Regions from separate parts of the Homo sapiens genome. Here regions 1, 3, 4 and 5 are each reported to be linked to region 2. The links are microRNA targets in miRTarBase. Many come from high-throughput screens and were not tested one by one. Region 2 holds a microRNA gene; each other region holds the end of a gene's coding sequence.
Evidence for each region. The annotated mature microRNA hsa-miR-543 reads AAACAUUCGCGGUGCACUUCUU and lies in region 2 at 1,862-1,883, shown strand. An mRNA with a match to its seed (bases 2 to 7 or 8) in the 3' UTR can be bound and repressed. Matches are read on the target gene's strand: a 7mer-m8 pairs with bases 2 to 8, a 7mer-A1 pairs with bases 2 to 7 and ends in A, and an 8mer does both.

Region 1 (4,658 bases), not on the chromosome of region 2:
GAATTCTGAGGGTCCCACTCTGCTGCGGCTTGTCCCGGTTCCCCTCCAGGTTCTGCTGCCTCCTTGTATTATTTAACTATAGCAAAGTTTCTCCCACTTCATTGTAAGACTTCCCTTACATCAAATAAGCTTCAAGAACATGTGTAGAAAATAAAAGATACCAAATAATGTTTGAATGTGTAATTACTACATTCTAAAACCAGCCAGACTCTTCTAAGACTTCTAACAACAAACCACTTCCAGAGCCATTTTAGAAAATGTGTTTACCCAACTCCTTTTTTATTGGTTGACTCACGTGGAAGAGATGGGCATTTCCTTTCCCCAAATGGGAATTTACTATGCCTACTCCATATTTCTTGAAAGCTGTCATTTTGAAAAAGAGGAATATGAAAAATATTAAAAGACAAACATCTGACATCACTGTCGAAGACTATAAAATAATGTAGTAAGTGAAATTGGTTTTCACATTTCAGTACTGCTTTAAACTCTGATATTTAAGAACTAAGTGTTTCTCATTTAGTTCTATCCATGATCTCTTTCAGAAGTCAACCACCTCCTGTGTAAAAGCCTCATAGAAGCCACTGCCTTCTGAAGGAAACACACCAACTGGCAGGGGGTCAGGGTAAGCCAGGAGTCACACCCAACTACCACTGCTCACACCCAAGAACCCCACCCTACCCTGGCCACAAAAACTGTGCCTAGACTCCAGCACAGCCTGCAGCTGTGTTTCAATTATAGCTGTGTTTGTAATTATAGGTCATGTGCCTTCTCCCCCACCCCAATCACTCCACCCCAATCACTCCATTTGGCTAACAAGTGACCATATTATAACACAAAAATGGAAAACAAACTGGAATGCTCGAAAAAGTTACAAATAAAAACGGTATGAAGGCATATTAAATTTTGGCTGATACTTCCCTTTGATTTTGCTAAACTATAGCAAAGGCTGGCTCAATGTTGATTTTTACTGAAGAGTATCATTAACTGAAGAAAGAAAAAAAGACATAAACAGTAGTGAAATAAAGAATAGGCAAATACACCAGAATTATGAATAGAAGCCATTTTAAAGAAGAGAAATATTCTACAACAGATGAAGAAAGTTTTAATTTCTTTTCACATTAAACATTGTTTACCACAATCAGCTAACAGAAATTACTGTAACATTGGTCACGATGACTTCATAAAACTAAAGATAAATGTTATGAGGAAACTTCATTTAACGTGAATGGTAATGTTAGATACTGTATTTTTCCATGGTAAAATACAACTTATCTTGAAGAGAAAGCAAATAGTTCAGATCAGGGAGACATGCTGAGGTTTTAATAAAGAAAAGCTTGGCCTTGTCCAGAACACTTAACAAAGTTCAGGACAATTTAGGTAAAAGAGATGAGTGAGACACCAGCGTTAGGCAGGGACATAGGCTCATCATTCAGGCTTTATGTACATTACTGGATCTATGCAGCTCTCACCTTTAGATAAGTGAGCTATATTTTTGGCAGAGGGATCTTCAAAAGTAGCCTTGGATATGAGGAATCGTATTTTAACCACCAGGCAGTCCAAGGAATTATTTTTAAAGGGACAGCTGAGTATTTCACGTATATACTATTAAGGCATCTAAATTTTTGGTGTTTTCAGTATATAATTTTACTGCTACTTTTTATTCTTTTTTTTCATATTGTACAACTATGATATTAGGTATTAAGCGACGTAATTCTTTCTCTACTAGTGAACCAGTTTATTTCACTTAGCAAACTCTAAATTGAGGGAAATATATAATCTGAGAACACACAGAAAAATATATTGAAAAACCAATAGAGAATTATTTTTAACCATCATAAAAACTCAATCTTAATTAACTGATAGTCTTTAACTTAAAAAAAGAGTAATCAGAATGAAAATAGGTATTAAAAATAATTACCAGTAGTTTGTTTTACAAAATAGAGCCATAAATTGTTTAATTGCCCAATTAAGCAACTACCAGATTCTTTAGTCAACACTAACAGAATTCACATTTCAGCTAGTCAACAAAGCATATAAATATTTAACATCTCTTGAAGATAACATTTTAGTGATAACGGAGACTACATAATTCTATCCATTGTTGTGACTGTCCACAAATTAACCAGGTTAAATATCAAAGATACATTGGGAATACTCCCCAAAACAACAACAGAATATTAATTAAATGAATTTTAAAAGCTTAAGAAATGAAAGTAGAAAACATGAATGAGACGGTGCTTAAACAATTATTGACCTAATCAAGACCTTTAAAATTACCACCAAAATGCACTATCATTTTTTTTTTATTTAGTTTACAGGAAGAATCTGTAAGTACAGGTTGCAGAAAGAAAACGTTTAGTGCTATTTACATTCATTTTAAAACTCTGCTCTATACAAATTTAATTCTGATCAGTATGAACAATATTTTCGTAGATCTACTGCATATAAAGCCTTTTCATCAAAGCATTAACAATGAATAAAATAACATGATTACATTTAAACAACGCTGACCATTTGAAACCATTTACATTTAATGTTTGTAAGGGCTGTTGACACTTAGTACAGAATGTAATGTCAGCCTGCAACTTCATTTTTATAAAGGCTAAACTTATTTATATGGAATATTGTTCTGTATACTACGCGCCAATCTATATTTTAAGTCCTGTAGTTAGGTATTTTATAAGTCTTTTATTAAATATATTCTACACATATTTGTAATTTCATCCAGGAAGAATTTCTTCCCAGTGAAAAAATATAAAAATCTTTCATATTTTTACAGGTTTAGATGAAAGTAGCTCATGCTTTAGTGCTGTGCAAATTGTTTTTAGCATATCAATCTTTAAATTATTGGTATGAAATAAAAGAAAAAGTGGCATTCTTGTGTATGCCATAAAAATCAGCTTTTGACTTTAATACAATTGCAAGCACTAATATCAAACGCAAACTATATAAAGAAACAAAATTAGTACTATGGAGTTTTTTTTTAATTTTAAGAATTCATCTGAACTCTAAGGAGTAAGCATGACACTGGATGTGGTTACAAATTAATGATAATTATGGAAAATTTCAATTTGCTGATATTCAAATACATAAAATTGATCAATGAGGTTTTCTAATATTTCTGCACAATAATGAAAGCCGATGAGTGACTGAAACTACCCTCCCACATTAAGGCTAGGAGACGCACTCTCACCCCTTCTTGTGCTGTCTAAACAAACACTCAGTTACTGTAGGACTCAAGAGTGCATGTCTTAAAGGAAAAAAAATTAGTTTCATCAGCCCTCTACTGAGTGCTTTAAACAGGCACATTTTGTTTTTTCATTTGTTGCAGTGAAAATAGTCACACTCAGTTTAGTATTCTGTGCCAGTGCAGCCACCACGGCTGACTTTGGTAGAATTCACCCAACATTTTAGTTTCTTTTCCATTTTTTCCTCTCAAGTTGGCCCAGTAATTAACTTCATTAATTGCTGAGTGTCTTCCAGTGTGGAATTGTATATATAAGTATTTCTAGATACCACACACTGTTATAAATTCTGCTGATGAGGAAAATAATGCCAATCTTTTTAATGCAAATTGTATTTGGAACACTTGATTTATTAGTTCTGATGATGAAAATTTTGTGGCAGCAAAATGGTTTCTGCTACGAAAGATAACTTGTTAACTTTTCCCCTGGAGATTGACTGCATTCAAAAACCAATATGTGTTAAAACAGCTCAACAAAAAATACAAGAAATAAAAAATCAGAGTGAAAAATGTTCTTGGTTCTTTTTACTTTCATGAGAAAAGATGACAGTGTTCATGTGGTAATTCAGTTCCATGTGTTTACAGGCAGACTGTTCTGAACGGTTTCTGAAGCAATGTCGGGTCTTTTCTGTCCCAGCAGCATGAAAGACAAAGACTATATCACATCACACTAGGCAGACAGTGTTTACAGGATTACACAACAATTACTCTCTCCAGTCTTCTCACGATTCCTCTGACCTAGGGAAAACGAAGAAGAGCCTCGTTTATAAAAATTCTAGAACTGGAGGGGAAAATGGGCTAGGCAATCAAGTGTAGGAAGTAGTAGTTTTGAGTTTTTAAAAATGTTTGCATTTTTCAAAATTAAGAAGCTGTAATAAATGTTCTTTTAATTTTAGCATGTTTCAAAAATGTCTGGTTATTTGCTTGACAATCTCTATTCATAAACTATGCAAACTTCCCTTCCCTCAGCATATCCAAGAAAAACCTAGCATTTTTGAATGCCTGTCTTTGTGCCTCAACTGAGATACTTTTCCAGTGCATGGCTTACCTTGAGAGTTTGGCTCTGGTAATGTCTCTCTGGCCACCAAATGCATCACTGTTGTTTTGCCAAAAGGAAGTTTTAATGCTATGTGAAAAGCAAAAGATGATTAGTTACACATATATCGACCTATTAAAATCACTATCCAGATTTAAAACCATTTTAAAAATTGATTGCTTTTTTATGACTTCTTTAACAGATTCAACTTAACTCAGAGTACCTTCACAAAATTAGGTTAATATTATCAGAAATAACATTTAAAATTTAGAAATTATTTTTTGCAGTTATATAGCCATTTGCTTGACACATTTATCCATATTAAGAGATGATATAAGAAAAAATATGTAATTGGCTAATATCAGAGGCCACCTTTAG
Region 2 (4,658 bases):
CGGAGAAGATGTGGGAGGACGTGGGGCCCGTGGGACTCTGCAGGATTTTAGGAGGGGTTTCCCTTCGGGGCCCCCTCCTCCTACCTCGTTAAAATCAATATAAGCAATCATCAGTGAATAATCTCTCTTTTGGTTTCAAATCCTGCCCAGGAGGGCTGATAGTCTGGCCACAGACAATGCCAGGATTGCAGAGGCCTGGGCTTCAGTGCCCCATCAGGGAAAGTCCCACCCCACACCACATGCTGACTGCAGGAGGTGTGTGTGTGACCTGGTACAGGGGTGTGGTTTATCCTCGGAAGGGTTTGAGGAGTGTTGTGTGTGTGCAGGACAGGGCAGGCGTTGGGACAGCTGTGGTAGTGAGGGCCACTTTATTCTGTGCTACATGAAGAGAGGCTGTCTGACAAAGCTTGCCATGTGTTTGATGAATGCTACGTGGCCCATCTCTTTTCCATAGGAGGACTTCCTGGACATGAAGCTAGATTCCGGCAGGGCCACTGGTGTCAGCAGCACTCCTGGTGAGTCGTGGATGGGGGACTGAGGAGCTGGCAGCGTGATTGAGATGAGCCCTTCCTGTGTTGGGACCACTCAGAATCCAGCCGCTTCGTGGGCAGCGTTCAGTCCATGCTTGGGGAAAGGGCTTTGTTGCCGTTGCTCATCTCTGTCTGTTGTTCAGCTCTGCTTGCCTTACGAGGCCCCAGATGCCCTGGATGCCCTCAGTGTCAGACTGCGGAAGATGTGTCCCGGCTGTGACACGCGCTTCAGGGGAGGGCTGTTGGCGTCAGGTCCATGGAGAGGTATGGGAGTGGACATCTTGTCTGAGAGCAGACATTCTATTTCGGGTGTGTGTCTTGGTCCGTTCATCCTCAGTCTCCCTCCCATACCTAGGATGGCTTGTGGAGAGAAGGCCTGCCCTGAGGGCTGAAGTTGGGACCCACAGCTCTCACCCCGGCCTTGGTATGCTCCCATGGCTACGGCAGAGGCACAAGAAAGTAATTAGAAACGCAGAAACTCCTTAAGGCCAAGGCTGGGAACTGCTATATTTCTACCCACAGATCATTGACCAGAACAATTACACGGCCGAACCCAAGGCAAGGGGCGGGGAGGCCCACTCCACCCGGGAGGGGGTTGTGGTGAGGTGTGAATGCAGGAACCGGTGAGGATTTGCCACCACCAAGTCAGTTGTCCACGTGGACCACCTGAGAACTTGGGTTTTATTCATTGCTCATTCATCCCTCCCTAACCCGCAGCTTCCGGTCTGCCCCGGGGGCTCTTCTCCGGCTCAGGCTGATCGACAGTGGTGACGCTGTGCCAGGACCCCTGGTCATTCCATCTGTTTGAGGCAAATGTTAAAAAATCCCTTGCGCTACCCATTCTATGACGACTCCCTTGGCTCAGAGGCTCCATCAGGGCAGACACTTTGCTGTTTGTCCCTAAAGGGTGGGTGGTAGATCTCATCCATCTTATCTGGGGAGTTATTGTGACTCTCCTGGTCCCTCCTCATGTATCCTCAGGAGGACTTTTAGGATGCAAAATCACTGTTTCTGTGCCATTGTCATATTCTGTGCTACTGGAGGAGACTTTTTGTTATTGAGAAATTGAACACATCGTGCTCACAAGCAGCTCCAGGACACAATGCCACCTGTGCAGAGGGGGCAGACCTGTTAGATGTCTCCCAGGTCTTGAGGGGGTTGTATGCACGGCCATATCTTTGTCACCGGTTGCCCGGTGCGCATCAGGACCCATGTGCTCTCAGGAAGCCCGCAGGAGTGATACCAGCCGCGGAGAAGCAGTGTTGTCAACGGTGCTGACGTGCGGTACTTAATGAGAAGTTGCCCGTGTTTTTTTCGCTTTATTTGTGACGAAACATTCGCGGTGCACTTCTTTTTCAGTATCCTATTCTGCCTTGAAGACGTCTTGGTTTGGGTGCAACTTCAGGGAAGGCACATGGGCCCCTGTAGTGGACGCTGATCAGGACCTCCCTACCCCATGTCTTTTCTCCTTCCTAAATTTCTCCTTGTTTTTTTTTTTTTTTTTTTTTTTTATGAAAGCTCCCGTCTTCCCGCCGTGTGCTTTGATTGCATTGACCCTGCCCCACTTCCTCCACCAGCCCAGGCTTAAGCGAATCTCTTGATCTCTTCTCCTTTGCCACTGCAATTGCTTCCGGAATAGGCCCATGACCCCACTGGGCCAGTGATAGGCAAGGAGATGCTTGCTGCAGCTTCTGGGAAAGAAACTGTTTCTCCCTTTCCTGTGATAGCTGCCAGAGTAGACACTGTCTATTCCATTCAGCTGGGAATAGACAGTGAACTTTGACGTGAGCTTCGAAGGTCCCACAGCCGTTTAAGGACTGAGAGGAGAGGGCTTGGTGCCACGCAGACACAGCAGAGGGAGTCTGTACCATGAAAGGCATCTTGGAGACCTAGAGAAGAGCCTGGATGATATCATTTGAGTCCCTAGATCAAACCCTGCCTGAAGCTTGCTCTGTCTCTGTACTTTTTAGTTATATACGTCTATAAATCCCTTACTTGTTTAAGCCAGTTGGAGTTAGATCTTATCTTACTTGCAATACAAACAGATGATACCACAGTGTGTTTTCCAGTGTGACTGGGAAAGCCTGCATTTTTTTCAATGATGTGTTTCTCACGGTTTGCCTATCTATCTTCAGTGTCCTATTTAAGGCAGGGTTTTGGTGGAAGGTGACTTTTCTTATGGACTTATGCTTTCAAAGCTTTGTCTTAGTGATTTAATTTATGGTTGACAAATGATGCACAATTACCGTGTTTTGTGTCCAGCAATGGGTCACTGGGTCCTCTCTGGAAGGCCTGATGGATGGTGGGCCCCAGAACTTCTGCCCCGATTCACTCTCCCTCGAATCCACCTCTCTCTGGGAGGCTGCCCTGCAAGTGATGTGGACTTGGGGAAGCCGTTGTCCTTTCCTGGCCCCTGCTGTCCTTTGGCTCTCTGTGGGTTGGCTGTATTTGTCACAACTCACACTTAACTGTCAGTGTTTTAGAACCAAGCCATGCCTCCAGGGAACCCGGAGCACTTTAGAGAGGAGGTGCAGTGGTCAGCACCATGCAAGGTGCACAGAGAGATGGGTCCACCGAGAGCCGGGGCTGCCTTGGTGGTTTGTTTCTCCTGATTCGATATCTTTGTCTTCCCATCTCCTTCCTGGAACCATGGGCTCATGGAGGAGATTCTATTTTTGGGTCCAGGACCATCCCATTTTCTCTGAAGTGATGCTCTCCATGAGCATTTGCAGGGTTGATAGTAAACATTCCGAAAGCCGTCTGCCCTGATTATTGAATTCTGCCCATGAAGACTTCCTGGGATCCCGAAGTAGAGGGAGTCTGGGATCGGTTTGCTTTATCCGTGATGACTGTCCGCCTCTGCTCAGTGTCAGCCCAGCCCTTCGAAGCATGTCCCCCACCTCCCCTGGGGTGAGCCAACTTACCTGATGCTTTTAGGCTTAATTGAGCATAAGTTTGATTGGCAGCGTCTGCCCGGCCCTGCCCTCACGCCCTGACCCTCAGTGTCCCTTCACGCCCAGGTGTGCCTCTGGCAGGGAGGACGTGCTCATCTCTGGTACCTGAAAAGAAGTTGCCCATGTTATTTTCGCTTTATATGTGACGAAACAAACATGGTGCACTTCTTTTTCGGTATCAAATATCTCCTTGAAGTGCCTCCATCCCCGACGGGACCCTGAGCATGGGACCTGGTGTCACTACCTCTCTTGGTATGTACATGGAGGATTTGTCCTGGCAGCCCCTCGGTGACTTTGTGTGTTGGTGGGCTCAGGGACCATGCTCAGTCCTCAGTCCTCAGTCCACGCCCACCTCTCGGACAGGCACAGTTGGCGAGGCCTCAACCACATGCCAGTTCCCCGCTGCCAGGGAGGCTGGGGAGATGCACTTCCAGGCTCCATTGAGAAGCGTTCCCCAACATTTGAGAAGAGTTCAGATCATAGCAGCCAAGAAAAAAATAAAAAAGGAAGCAGCTGCCACAACAACAAAAACAAATAAGCAATGAAGACCCCTGCCCCCATCCGCTCTCTCCAGAGGCTTGAGGGGATGGCTGAAGGGGACATGAGGACATGCCATCTGGGGGACTGCCACCCGCACCTCCACAGAAGAATTGATTGGGGGTAGCAATTGTGGCAGAAGGCGTCCCTGTGGTTCTGGGAGATGGGATTTCTCAGAGTGGTGATTTACTGGAGCCTAATCCTCCCTGCCCCGCTCTTTCTTTACTTTTCTTTTCTTTTTTTCTTTCTTTTTTTTTTGACACAGAGTCTCGCACTGTCTCCTGGGCTGGAGTGCAATGGCACGATCTTGGCTCACTGTAACCTCTGCCTCCCAGGTTCAAGCGATTCTCTTGCCTCAGCCTTCCAAGTAGCTGGGATTACAGGCGCCCGCCACCAGGCCCAGCTAATTTTTTGTATTTTTAGCAGAGACGGGGTTTCACCATGTTGGCCAGGCTGGTCTTGAACTCCTGACCTCATGATCCACACCCACCTTGGCCTCCCAAAGTGCTGGGATTACAGGCATGAGCCAGTGCGCCCAGCCCCCGCCCCACTCTTTCTAGGTGCCAGTTCTGCCTCTGAGAGATGTGCTCCTTGATCACCAGCATCAGAGAGATGGTGTCTGACATTGGTGTCTGCC
Region 3 (4,599 bases), not on the chromosome of region 2:
AGAATCATCCTGATCATTTAATGAGAAAAAAATATCAGTGTACAGATTGTGACTTTACAACTAACAAGAAAGTGAGTTTCCATAACCACTTAGAAAGCCATAAGCTCATAAACAAAGTCGACAAAACCCATGAATTTACAGAATACACACGAAGATACAGAGAGGCTAGTCCACTGAGTTCCAATAAACTTATTTTAAGAGACAAGGAGCCGAAGATGCACAAGTGCAAATACTGTGACTATGAAACTGCAGAACAAGGACTGTTAAACAGGCATTTGTTGGCCGTTCACAGCAAGAATTTTCCTCATGTTTGTGTTGAGTGTGGGAAGGGTTTTCGACATCCTTCTGAACTCAAGAAACATATGAGAACCCATACTGGTGAGAAGCCATATCAGTGTCAGTATTGTATTTTCAGGTGTGCAGATCAATCAAATCTGAAAACTCACATTAAGTCTAAACATGGTAACAATTTGCCATATAAATGTGAGCATTGTCCCCAAGCATTTGGTGATGAGAGGGAGCTTCAACGCCATCTGGATTTGTTTCAAGGACATAAGACACACCAGTGTCCTCATTGTGACCATAAGAGCACCAATTCAAGTGACCTTAAGCGGCACATCATATCTGTCCATACTAAGGATTTTCCTCACAAATGTGAGGTCTGTGATAAAGGTTTTCATCGTCCTTCTGAGCTCAAAAAGCATAGTGATATCCATAAGGGTAGGAAGATTCATCAGTGCAGGCACTGTGACTTTAAAACATCCGATCCATTTATTCTTAGTGGCCATATCCTTTCAGTTCATACTAAAGATCAGCCATTGAAATGTAAAAGGTGCAAGAGAGGATTCAGACAACAAAATGAGCTAAAAAAACATATGAAGACCCATACTGGAAGGAAGATTTACCAATGTGAGTATTGTGAATACAGCACTACAGATGCATCTGGCTTTAAACGACATGTGATATCAATACATACAAAAGACTATCCACACAGGTGTGAATTCTGCAAGAAGGGATTCCGAAGACCATCAGAAAAAAATCAGCATATTATGAGGCACCACAAAGAGGCTCTTATGTAATAAGATCAATATAAAGAAAGAAGCTATTTAGGAGATATGATATGCTACTTGGGAGAAAACTCTCACTAACTGTCTCACCGGGTTTCAAAGCTTGATACTAAACCATGACTTTACATTCTTTGTATTAAAGATCTTAAAATATTTGAATTCACAGGGGATCCCATAGCCCTTTGAAAATTACTTAAAGAATTTAAGAAGCACTATAGAATGGTTACAGAAAAACTTCTTAAGTATCTGTGTAATAGTATTATATGCATACTTAAACTACAGAGGGGAAAAGCAAAGACAAATACTTTATTTGGCTGATTATGTTAGATACAAATGTTTCTGAGAAGAGAATACATAATTGAGTTTAGTGATGCTTTGCTATAGCAAGCAAACCCACTTTTATGCAATTTTAGAAATGGGGCAGGGAAACAAAATGTGGTCATTCATCAGTCACTTAGTCATTGAGCCTTTTATATTGTACCTGGAAATTAAATTCCAGCAATGACAAAAGTTTTGTGTATTCATTAAAAGAAAACTAACTGGAAAACAGGTTAGATTAATTCAGTACTATTAAAAAAGAATTCAGAGCTGTTAATATTTTATCACAGGATAGGATACTTAAAATATAGCATTCTGTGCTGAGATCTAAGGTGAAGTCTATAAAGATTAAAGTTCCCTTTTTTCTGATGTTCAAGTTGATTGTTGTTCAGTATGGCATATATGACAAAAGTATATTTGAGTCAAATGTGGCTTTCTAAAATGGATGCAACATTAGCGTTGCAAACAAAATCAGCACTATATTTCTTAATGATCTAAAGATTAATTTGAGAGAACACAGTTTTCTTAAATATTATAATGTCTAGAGTTTTTTTAGGACAGTCTTAGCAAGTATGATTGTTCTAGTCTTACTTGCTCTAATGTTTAAAGGTGCAATTTTATGCCATTATTGAAATTGATTTTTAAAATCTATATACCATATGATTAACATGCATTTTCAATATGAGGCAGTGTTTATGCAGTATTTAACAGAGCAATCTGCTGCCAATAGAGTTTGGAGGTGGATATTTAGTTTACAGTGTATAAACTTAAAATATGCATCCCTTTAACAACGCTTTGTGTTAGCATGCTGCAAATCAAAATGGCACTTAATATTAAAAGCTGGTTTAGGGAAATTTTATGAAAATCCTGTTCATAAATGTAATGCATATGATATGTACTTTTAAGTTTTAGTTGCTTCATGTTTACATTCAGCTGTTCAACATAATTAAAATGTAATTTTACTTCATGCTATATTGTGGCTTTGTGTTTCAAATAATGTTCACCTTTCTGTTTTTGCACCAGATAAGAATCAGTTCCTTGAGAATAAATTTTTTATCTTTCTTAACTTCAGAATATTAAATTTGGAATATCTACTAAAATTGTGTGTTATGTGGCTGTAAATGATGTACACGCTGTAAAATAAGATCGCTACTGTTATGTGGGATTATTATTTCTAAATGTTACTCATTGAAATGAGCATACAATAAAAAGCATTTATTGCACTTAATGGTTTTATAAGTTTATTTAAAGTTTCCATATTTTTTATTAAAAGACTTCACTTCAGAGTTACTTAGGCAGATTGGTCCTTTCTTTAATGTCTTGTTGAATTTTGTTCATGAACAACAACATGAACTAGGAATTTAAACAGTTACGATGACTATGTAATGCATATTTCTTAAGAATGTATGTTATTTGCTAAAATCATAATGAAATACTATAAATAAAAGTGTCCATTTTAAGATCTTAGATTTCATATTAGAGAGAAAACTAAAAGTTCTTAACTTGCTTAAATGACACAATCCTGAGCAGTGAATACATCTAATTATGTTCCCAATATACATTCAAAAGGAAAAGTATTGTTGTGTGTATTTGGCAAAGATTTCTGCAAATGAGCATAAAAATAACTTTCTATGTTCAAACCAGTGAGCATTTCATATAATTCTATATATATGGCACTGTTAGTTAAGACTCTTTGTCAGTTGAATTATTAATTATTAATTAATCACTAGCAGAAAAGGAAAATATCAGCCTCACATGTTAGACCAGTGCTTCTTAAATCTAAAGTCTGTAGAGGCTCACCTAGGGAACTTGCTGAAATGCATATTCTGATTCAATAGATTTGGGGTGGGGCCTACAATTCTGCATTCCTATTAAGTTCCCATGTGTTGCCACCATATGAGTAATAAGGTGGTAGACAAAAGCACCTGCTGTAATTCTGCCACATGTTAATTACTTTGCTTAAACAGATAGTTGTGGGTGAGTGGACAGAGGGAATTCTTACTGAGGACATGACATTAGAGCTGAGATATGAGTCGCAAGAAGGAGCTAGCCATATGAAGGTCTTGTGGAAGAGCAAGGCAGAGAAACCTGCAGGTGCAAACAACCTGAGATGCAACAAGCTTTGGCTGGACAATGGTTAGCAAGTGGGAGTGATAAGAGACGGTTGCAGTGATCCGAGATCGCGCCATCGCACTCCAGCCTGGGTGACAAGAGTGAAACTCCGTTTCAAAAAAAAAAAAAAAAAGAGATGAGACCTATGAGAAGTTTGAAACGGGAAGTCCTTGGGAAAAGTTAAGGAAAACAGTGCTGTTACATGTTTTGAAAATCACTCTGGAGGCTCTAAGAAATGTAGAGGAGCTGAACGATGCAGCCATGTTAAGTGGTTACTCTAGTTGTCATGGTTACAGTGGGGCTGGAGAAAAGTATATGGATTTTCTTCTACTTGTATATTGGGCTTAGAAAATGCCAGCCCAGGTAGAGCAGACATGAACTTCCTGGCATAAGGCTTTCCTACATACCAGGACAGATTCCACCTAGAATGTAGATCTATAAGTCAAAGTACCTTCACAAGACAAAGAAAAAATTGGGAATTACTGAAAAATCATTTTTCCAGAACAGTTCAGGGTCATATGTGTAGATGGATTTATCCAATTGTCACTTTTAAATTGCTTATGCCATGATGGAGAAGATAGTATTTGGGAACTCTTACACAGATAGGGCCCTTAAGTTCAACTGCTCCTGTCTCTTACATGACAACCACAAGTTTAGTTTGAACCTTGAACTTCTCTTAAAGATATATATCCCTTTAATTGCAGAAAACCGTGTACAAAAATAGAAAAATATAATGAACCTCTATATAGCCATCACCCAGCTTCAACAATTATCACTTTATGGCTAATCTTGTTTCGTTTGTATTCTTCCTCACTTATCCCTTCATCCACTTACACCTGATTAGCTTATTTTGATGCATCCTTCCCCTACTAGTTTAATTTGTAGCAAATCCCAGACATATTTGCAACAATTTTTGAAGGATATAGCACAATTCTTGACATGCCTACTTCCAAGGGGGAAATGACTCGTCCTCTATGAAGGCAGAGGAACAAAATAATCATCTCATTTAACTCTTTCAACTTCCCCTTGTGAGAACCAAGAAAAAGCTGACTAGGCTTGGAATTATATACAGTACGATTTTTTTGAACTAATAAGGCTTTAG
Region 4 (4,000 bases), not on the chromosome of region 2:
GATATTCGTCCCCCCAACTCTCATGTTGAAATGTGATTCCCAGTGTTGGACGTGGGGCCTGGTGGGAGGTGATTGGATCATAATGGCAAATTTCTCACGAATCGTTTAGCATCATCCTGTTGATGCTGTCCTCACAATGTTGCAGGATTTTTAAGGAATCAGAGAGACCGATGGGGTTCAGGAGAATATTTATTATTTAGGTGCTCCGGCCCAGTCAGATTAACATCCAAAGGACTGAGCCCTGAACAAAGAGTTAAGTTAGCTTTTAAGCATTTCGTGGGGCAGGGGGAGATCTGTGCAGGGGGAAGCATATTACAGAAGCAAGAAACAAAGACAGTTATTCAGTCAAGACATGCATTACATCATTTCTTACTTTTCAAGGAAAAACATGTTTTGCGACTTGAGTTTATCTGTCTAGTGACCTTGCAGCTGCACAGCTAGGGAAACAGGGTCTTCACAATGCCTGGGAAGGGAGGAGAGCTAACACTCACTAGCCACCAGAAAAACAGGCAGTGAATTTTTAAAGGACTCCAGCTCTTTCTCTTTCTCAGGGGGAATTGGGTTTTCTTACGTACAACTGAGTTTCTGCTTACACACTCTTTGATTTCTTTTAATTCCTTTTCTAACAACAATGAGTTCCTGAGAGATCTGGTTGTTTAAAACAGTGTGTGGCATCTCCTCCACCTCTCTCTCTTGCTCTCTTGCCATGTGATGTGCCTGCTCCTGCTTTGCTTTCTGCTATGAGTGAAAGTTCCTTGAGGCCTCCCCAGAAGCCAAGCAATGCTGGTGCCATGCTTCCTGTACAGTCTGCAGAACTATGAGCCATTTACACCTTTTTTCTTTATAAATTACCCAGACTCAGGATTTTCTTTATAGCAACACAAGAATGGCCTAACACACCATCTAACAAGGGATTCATAACCAGAATATATAAGGAACTCAAACAATTCAATAGCAAAAAACCCATAACCTGATTAAAAAATGGACAGGCTGGGCGCAGTGGCTCACACCTGTAATCCCAGCACTTTGGGAGACCAAGGTGGGTGGATCACAAGGTCAGAAGTTCAAGATCACCCTGGCCAACATGGTGACACCCCCTCTCTACTAAAAATACAAAAAAATTAGCTGGGTGTGGTGGTGCACACCTGTAATCCCAGCTACTCAGGAGGCTGAGGCAGGAGAATTGCTTGAACCTGGGAGGCGGAGGTTGCACTGAGTCGAGATCGCACCACTGCACTCCAGCCTGGGTGACACAGCAAGACTCCATCTCAAAAAAATAAAATGGACAAAAAGGCCAGGCACGCCTAAAGTACCTGCACTTTGAGAGGCCAAGGTGAGCGGATCACTTGAGCACAGGAGTTCAAGACCAGCCTGGGCAACATGGTGAAACCCAGTCGCTACAAAAAATACAAAAAAATTAGCTGAGCATGGTGGCACTCGCCTTTGGTCCTAGCTATTTGGGTCATCCTGAGGTGGAATGATCACTTGAGCCCAGGATGTGGAAGCCCAGATCACCTCCAGACTGGGTGACCCCAATTCAAAAAAAAAAAAAATTTAAAAAAAGGGCCAGAGATCTGTATAGACATTTCTCAAAGGAAGACATATGAATGGCCATTAGATATGTGAAAAAATGCTCAACCATAATTAGGGAAATGTAAACCAATACCACATTAAGATATCTCACCCCAGTTAAAATGTTCATTTGAAAAAAAAGAAAAAATAACAAATGCTTGTGAGGATGTGGAGAAAGGGGAACGCTCATCCACCATTGGTAGGAATGTACAGTAGTACAACCACTATGAAGAACACCATGAAGGTTCCTCAAGAAACTACACATAGAATTATCATACAATCCAGCAATCCCTTTGCAACCTGTGTCCATCAACAGATAAATGGATATAGAAAATGTGGTATGTATGGACAATATTATGAAAAAGAATGGGATTCTGTCATTTGTAGCAACATGGATGGAACTGGAGGTCATTAATGTAAGTGAAATAAGCCAAGCCTAGAAAGACAAATATTGAATGTTCTCACTCATATGTGGGAGATTAAAAAATGGGTCTCATGGAGGCAGAGTAGAAAGGTGGTTACAAGGCTGGGAAGGGAAGGGGAGAGTAGGAAATTCAGAAAAGTTAGTTAATGGTTACAAGAATACATTTAGATACAAGGAATAAGTTCTAGTATTTGATAGTACAGTAGGTAAATTATAGTTAACAATAACATATAATAATATACTTATATATACTTCTAACTTGCTATATCTTATTTTGAAATATATAACTATATTTTGAAATATATGTATATTCAAATACCCTGATTTGACCATTATACTTTGCATACATGTATCAAAATAGCACATTACAAGTACATTATCAATAAAAATAATAAAGTTATTTGTTGAATGAATGGCCTGTGGCTTTTCAATTCACTTGTGTGTTTAGGCAGCAAAAAATTATTTCTCCATTTGGCCTTAAGTGGAGACCCACTGGCCTGAATCTTAGGAAGCCTGGGTTCATTTTTATTTTTATGAAGAATGTAAAACATACTTCTAAGATGAGATGCATTGATAAGCTGTTACAGGTTTGAAAATCCTGAATGTTTATGGTAAAAAGCCATTTTGGAAGTTGAAGTGTAAATGTTTTAAATGTTTATTTTTGTAAATACTGAGTTTGTGTTTAACATCTGAGCCTCAGGTACTAAATACTACCTCTTGTCATTTTGAAAATAATGTTGGGTGCAGTGGCTCAGGCCTGTAATCAGCACTTTGGGAAGTGGAGACAGGCCAATCACCTGAGGTCAGAAGTTCAAGACCAGCCTGGCCAACACAGCGAAACAGTCTTTACTGAAAAATACAAAAATTAGCCGGGTGTGGTGGTGGGTGCCTGTAATCCCAGCTACTTGGGAGGCTGAGACAAGAATTGCTTGAACCCGGGAGGCGGAGGTTGCAGCCGAGATCACGGCACTGCACTCTAGCCTGGGTGACAGTGCAAGATTTCGTCAAAAAAAAAAAAAAAAAAAAAGAAAAGAAAATAATGTTAAAAAATGCAGTTATTTAATATAGTGTCTAGCAGACAATAAATGCTTAATAAATGAGTCATTTTTAGCTTTTACTCACATTTTATAATCTCTGCAGGAATCACATTACCTAGTGCAACTACTTCCCCAAAAAAGGACTCTAAGGGATCCCAGAGATTGCATCTAGGAAAAGAGCGTGTGTGTGTGTGTGTGTGTGTGTGTGTGTGTACGTGTCTGTGTGTCTGTGTGTAGTTTAAAAAAGAACAATACATGGCAAAAAAAAAAACCATGAAAGCATTATAAACTTTAAAATTTGTTTACTGAGAATCTGTTTATTAAGGAGTTAACATTTTAGAGTTGGTTCAATACTTTATGGAACTTAAAATCCTGAGTTGCCCCTCAATAATACAGACATCTACAGTACAGGCATTTGTACAAAATACTATAATTACTGGTGCTTAACATTATTAGACTTCTATAACTTCCATTTGTCAGGTAAATAAAACACTAACCTTTCAAAGTTGCTACAATTTTAGGAGTTCACAAATTCCTATTTCTCCAGTTTTTATTAGTACATTTTAAACCTTCTTTGGGGACTGGAAGCCAAACTCCTCAAACAAAAGCCTCAATCTGAACCAACACTGAGAGACAGTAATGTCAGAGGCTCTTTTGTTTTTCACGGAGAGCAAAAATACAGAATATATTTATTAATTTATTTTCCAATAAAGAGAATATACTTTGTATTTGGAGAAAAAAATGCTTAATTGTCAGGAGTTGCTTTCGGAGAATGATCAATAAGTTCCTTGTCAATTGTCTCATAGTAATACCAGGGTCCATCTCCTCTCACATGCATCAATTTTCGCACTTCCAGCTCCTTTACCCTGTAACAAATGGAACAGCAATATTGAGATTCCAGCACTTCCAATTATAAATTTAATGAGCCATTTCCATAAAGGACAATCACTGGAGTCTGCTTTTATGT
Region 5 (4,658 bases), not on the chromosome of region 2:
TGCCTGGCTAAATTTTTAATTTTTTGTAGAGATGAGGTTTTGCCATGTTGCCCAGGCTGGTCTCAACCTCCTGGGCTCAAGCAACTCTCCCACCTCGGCCTCCTAAAGTGCTGGGATTACAGGCATGAGCCACCACACCCAGCCAGTTGAGGTTTGTATATATGTGCCAAACATGTTAGACTCATAGATACGCTATCCTATGAAGGTGGGTATCATTATCTCTGTTTTACAAAGGAGGAGATCAAGGTCCAGAGAGGTTGGGTATGAGATGAGGACATGTAGCTGGCAGGTGGGGAGCTGGGCTTCTATTCAGGTCACTCTGACCCTGTCCAGAGTGGCCGTAGGGCCTCTCAGCAGGACGTATACAGCTGATGTGCTGTTTTAATATGGGAAACTTTTCTCTTATACCATCAATGATTAGTCTCAAAAAATTCACTTCACACCCACTGTTGACTTGCTTCATGACTGGGTGTATATAATTAGACTAAATATCCAGGCACTAGATTTAATTTTGGGGTTTTCATTCATAAGTTTGATATTGACATGGTTGGCAGTTCTAATAGTCTTTCAAATAAAATGTGTGAAATTTATTATGTGTATTTTATATAGAGTTTTGTTTGTAAGTCTGTTTTTTTTCTCCACCCCCTCCTTCTCTCAAAATAGAAACTAGTTCAAATTCTTGTTACAGTGTCCTGAATATAAATTTCTTTGTCACCAGGTTAATTTTGATTCTGAAAATGGACCAACAGTTTACAACACCCTGAAGAAAATATTTAAGCACACGCTGGAAGAAAAAAGAAAAATGACAAAAGATGGCCCTAAGCCTGGCCTCTAGCTTTCACTCGTGGTGAATATTTCAGACCTAAAGATCCAGATAGTATCTCTGTTCATATGTGAATAAGTTGAAGATTGTGGGGCTACTTTTTCTCATAGCACTTTATTTTGAATGTTGTTAGTTTGTGCTGAGAATGGTCGTCCGTATTTGAACCAATTATTTATTTTAAAATATATTTAAGCTACATTTTTGTTTTGAAAAATTGCCATAAATTTGGTGCCACTTTCTTTTATTTATTTGACTGAGTTAATATTATTGTATTAACATTTTAAGTATATGGTGTTTACATTCTTATTTCTTTTGACATTTTGGAAATAATCATAACTTGTCTTTCCAAAATAACCATTTTCTTGATGGAACTCTTCCTAGAGTTTTTACCAAATAGCTAACTTTAGTAGTAAAACCTCATTGTGTATCCATTCCCCCACAGATGAACTAAGAAAGTCACCAAGTGTCTTAAGCTGTTTTATATTTGTTACGAAGAAGGCTATTGCTACAATATTTTTAAAGGTTTCTTTTTTAACTTTGAAATTTTTTGTTTTTCCTTTTCTTTTTATAAATGTAACAGAGGGTTTCAAAGCATATTATTTTTCAGAGAGATTTAGTTTTACTTTAATGGAGTGACTGTGAAGTGGTTGGGATTTTTTGCTTGTAGAAAGTAGACTTGCTCTTTGTCAGATTTCCAAACAACCTTGCCAGCCTTGGCTGTCAAAAGGAGGCAGGAGCAGTTCTCAACACACCAAGCCTTATTCCCACTCCCTTGGGTTGCTGCTGAGCCAAATAGCATCTTTACAGAGGAAGTGGGATCAGAGGCAGGAAGTGTGGAAAGTTGCTAAGAAGCAGGGCTTGCCTCTGTCCTCCCGGGGACTCCACAGGGATATTCGTGCAGGGCAGGGGCTCTGTGCCAGCCCTGCTCTCTCAGATGCCACAGCCACTCTGCAGAGGTGACTCTTGGAGCTGGAGGAAGTCAAAACTGGGCCACTGTTTGTACTGATGGTGTATTAGCATGAGCAGCGTGGCCCTGGCCCCACACTCCCAAATCTGCCACTCCATAGACCCACTTGCCTCAAGGCTTTATATTTGGCTGCTTTCTTACAATGAGAATTAAGATTTTTAAACTGAAGTTGACCATACAGGTTGCATTAGCCCTAACTGGCTTCATGTAAGAAGGGTGACTGCCTAAACTAGTTCCTTGTAAGCTGAACCATCAATTATCAGTTGAAGCCATACTTTTATTTAAATTAATATACGTAGATACCAGAGGCCAAGCCACAGAGAGGATAATAGTTCTTCCCAATAAAGGTGATATTAATCAGACTAATTTCGAACTAAAGAAGTTACTGCTTAAAGACGGAATTTCAGGGGAAGCAAGACTCATTTAGAACAAATGAAATTTCTCCAGTCCTACATTTCTGAATTGACTTCTAGCACATCAAAAATATTTCAGTCATTATCAGTCTCATTAACTGAAATGCCAAATGCTAAATGCAGTGTTCTTTCACACTGTTTTAATTTTCTTGGGAAATTGAGTCCAGTGGATGTTAATGGAGTGGGTTGCCCATCCCTGAAATGTCTTATTTTCAAGTGCCTGGCCTGGGAAAGAAGGGGAAGAAACAATTGCATTATATCCAAAGATACACTATAAAAATAGAGTTTTTACCAAAAAAAGATGTTTGTTCTCATCTCAGTAGGCCTCATTTGGGCAAGTGACCCACAGGTCTTTTGGCGAGTTTGCTATTTGCCTGTTGAAATACTTGTTTCAACTTAGAGAACAGTTATGATGTGACCATAGCATGGCACAACTAAAAATCTAAGCCTGAAACCTGAAAAAAGAGATATGACAAGGGAAATTAATCAGGCTATACATAAGTATTGTATTTATTTGAATAAAAATAAAAAGAGCAACCCATAATCCTAGTCCTGTACTTCTTTACCTTGATGCTCTAGGACATCTGATGATAAAGACAAGGTTTTGTCTTAGATTATCCTAATAGGCAGATTGAGTTGTCGGCTGATTCAGTGAGCCAAGCTCTAGTTAGTGCAGACTCCTTCCATCAGTTCAGCATGACCAAACACTGGGGGGTTGGGATAGGTGAGTTCTAAGAGGAATAGCTGGGGAAAATCTCCAAGCTGACAAGATTCCTAACTTCCCATATTTGGATGAGGAGTTCTTTGTAGCCCAGAGGACAGAAATCTCACATATTGGGAGAAGTGATAAGGTTGAAAAATTCAGTTCAACAGAAATAGGAAGGTTAAGGGCACACACATATTAAGAACTTACCATGGGCCAGCCGTATCCATTACCTCACTGAATTATCTTGACAGAAGTCTTTTTTATTTCATTTATTTATATATATTTTTTTGAGACGGGGGTCTCGCTCCGTAGCCCAAGCTGGAATGCAGTGGCATGATCTTGGCTGACTGCAACCTCCGCTCCCAGCCTGAAGCCATCCTCCCACCTCAGCTTCCTGAGTAGCTGGGACTACAGGCACATGCAATCACATCTGGCTAATTTTTTGTTTTTTTGTTTTTTTGGTATTTTTTGTAGAGATAGGGTTTCACCATGTTACCCAGGCTTGTCTTGAACTCCTGAGCTCAAGTGATCCTCCCACCTCGGCCTCCCAGAGTGCTGGGATTACAGGTGTGAGCCACCGCACCTGGCCTCAGAAGTCTTAATCATAACTGTGTGACGTGAGATGTGGAGTCCAATGGACCCCGTGCTGTGCCCTCCTCTCTGCTCATGTTACCTGCCTATAGGACTCTTAACCTGGCAAAGCTGCCCGTCAAAGTGCCTTCTCAGGGACCTTGAGGTCCCTTTAGCACTAAATTTTATGATGGCATTAAGAGAACACTGTGCTGTCCATAACTTAGTGAAAATATCACACATCTGTCCTGGAAAAGGCTGAACCAGCTCTATTATTATCCTATGATGTTCTCTAGTATATCACACTTAGAGGAAGTACATGATTTCTTGCCACTGTTGCCTTTTCTTACTTCAGAGAGCTTACTAATGCCCTTTGAGACAAATTGCTGCTGGTGGTAGAGCTCGCTTCATTTATTTATGTAACTCAGAAAATCTGTGCTGAGTTACTTAGTCATATCTTCATCCAGCTTGCCAGTCTTATCTGAGAAAAAGTACTTGCTTCATCGTTCTGGATTCCATGAAAACCACCATATATCATAATTCAACAGAGGTAAAGTGTCTCTATTTTCTCTTAAATGGAGAATGCTTGCTGATATGATTGGGTGCTATTTCAGGCTAGTCTCCACATGTCCGAAAAAATATCCAGGGACAGTGTAATGTAGATAGAATGCAAGCCCCAAGTTCTTGACATCTGACAGCCCCATGTAATTTGGGGGGTCAATTTAAAAATGACAGCTTACTCATAGGATCTTTATTATTATTCCAAATTAGCAAGCATTAATATATTTTCAGTGCAGGTAAATCAAGAACAATGTTCTCTTTGATGCTTTTTATGAATGGCACAAGATTAGCATGTTACCTAAGAGAGCTTTTCTCAATGCTAGATGGCTGCAAATTGTTTATAGATAAAGTAGCAGGAGAAAAATTCAACAAAATCCTGTTTCTCAGTGGGTCATTATTTTTTTAGTTATGCTTTTAGGCATGAGCTAATCTCTGATTACCTCAACACTGACAATAAAACTGATTTATAAATAATCACAATGGAACCATTCAGTATTGGAGCTTGACAAGCCTTTGTTCAAAGCCCTTCAGTCACTAAAAATAATGTCCCAATAAGACTTAAATGTCATAAAACCTTTTGCAACGAAAATAAAAGTTTCATACATCCACTGAAACTTG

Region 1: miRTarBase lists UBL3 as a target of hsa-miR-543. Seed matches in the 3' UTR shown: 7mer-A1 at 2,059-2,065 and 7mer-A1 at 1,159-1,165.
Region 3: miRTarBase lists ZNF711 as a target of hsa-miR-543. Seed matches in the 3' UTR shown: 7mer-A1 at 2,563-2,569.
Region 4: miRTarBase lists NDUFB5 as a target of hsa-miR-543. Seed matches in the 3' UTR shown: 7mer-A1 at 3,478-3,484 and 7mer-A1 at 3,363-3,369.
Region 5: the mRNA of PTPDC1 is a reported target of hsa-miR-543. Seed matches in the 3' UTR shown: 7mer-m8 at 945-951.

What each region holds. Positions count from the first base shown.
Region 1 is chr13:29,763,326-29,767,983 of GRCh38, forward strand. It overlaps UBL3 (ubiquitin like 3), which reads right to left. Exons shown (of 5, transcript NM_007106.4): 4 at 4,293-4,370; 5 at 1,046-3,982. The coding sequence ends at 3,930. Among named protein-coding and RNA genes, the nearest start is that of UBL3, 85 kb to the right of the region's middle.
Region 2 is chr14:101,030,172-101,034,829 of GRCh38, forward strand. It overlaps MIR543 (microRNA 543), which reads left to right and starts at 1,816; the gene lies at 1,816-1,893. LOC124903407 (mucin-2-like) reads left to right here. Exons shown (of 5, transcript XM_047432049.1): 5 at 1-4,311. MIR495 (microRNA 495) reads left to right here and starts at 3,584; the gene lies at 3,584-3,665.
Region 3 is chrX:85,270,750-85,275,348 of GRCh38, forward strand. It overlaps ZNF711 (zinc finger protein 711), which reads left to right. Exons shown (of 11, transcript NM_001330574.2): 11 at 1-2,608. The coding sequence ends at 1,079. Among named protein-coding and RNA genes, the nearest start is that of ZNF711, 29 kb to the left of the region's middle.
Region 4 is chr3:179,623,819-179,627,818 of GRCh38, reverse strand. NDUFB5 (NADH:ubiquinone oxidoreductase subunit B5) reads right to left here. Exons shown (of 6, transcript NM_002492.4): 6 at 172-3,899. The coding sequence ends at 3,779. Among named protein-coding and RNA genes, the nearest start is that of NDUFB5, 21 kb to the right of the region's middle.
Region 5 is chr9:94,107,110-94,111,767 of GRCh38, forward strand. It overlaps PTPDC1 (protein tyrosine phosphatase domain containing 1), which reads left to right. Exons shown (of 9, transcript NM_001253829.2): 9 at 719-2,744. The coding sequence ends at 835. Among named protein-coding and RNA genes, the nearest start is that of PTPDC1, 25 kb to the left of the region's middle.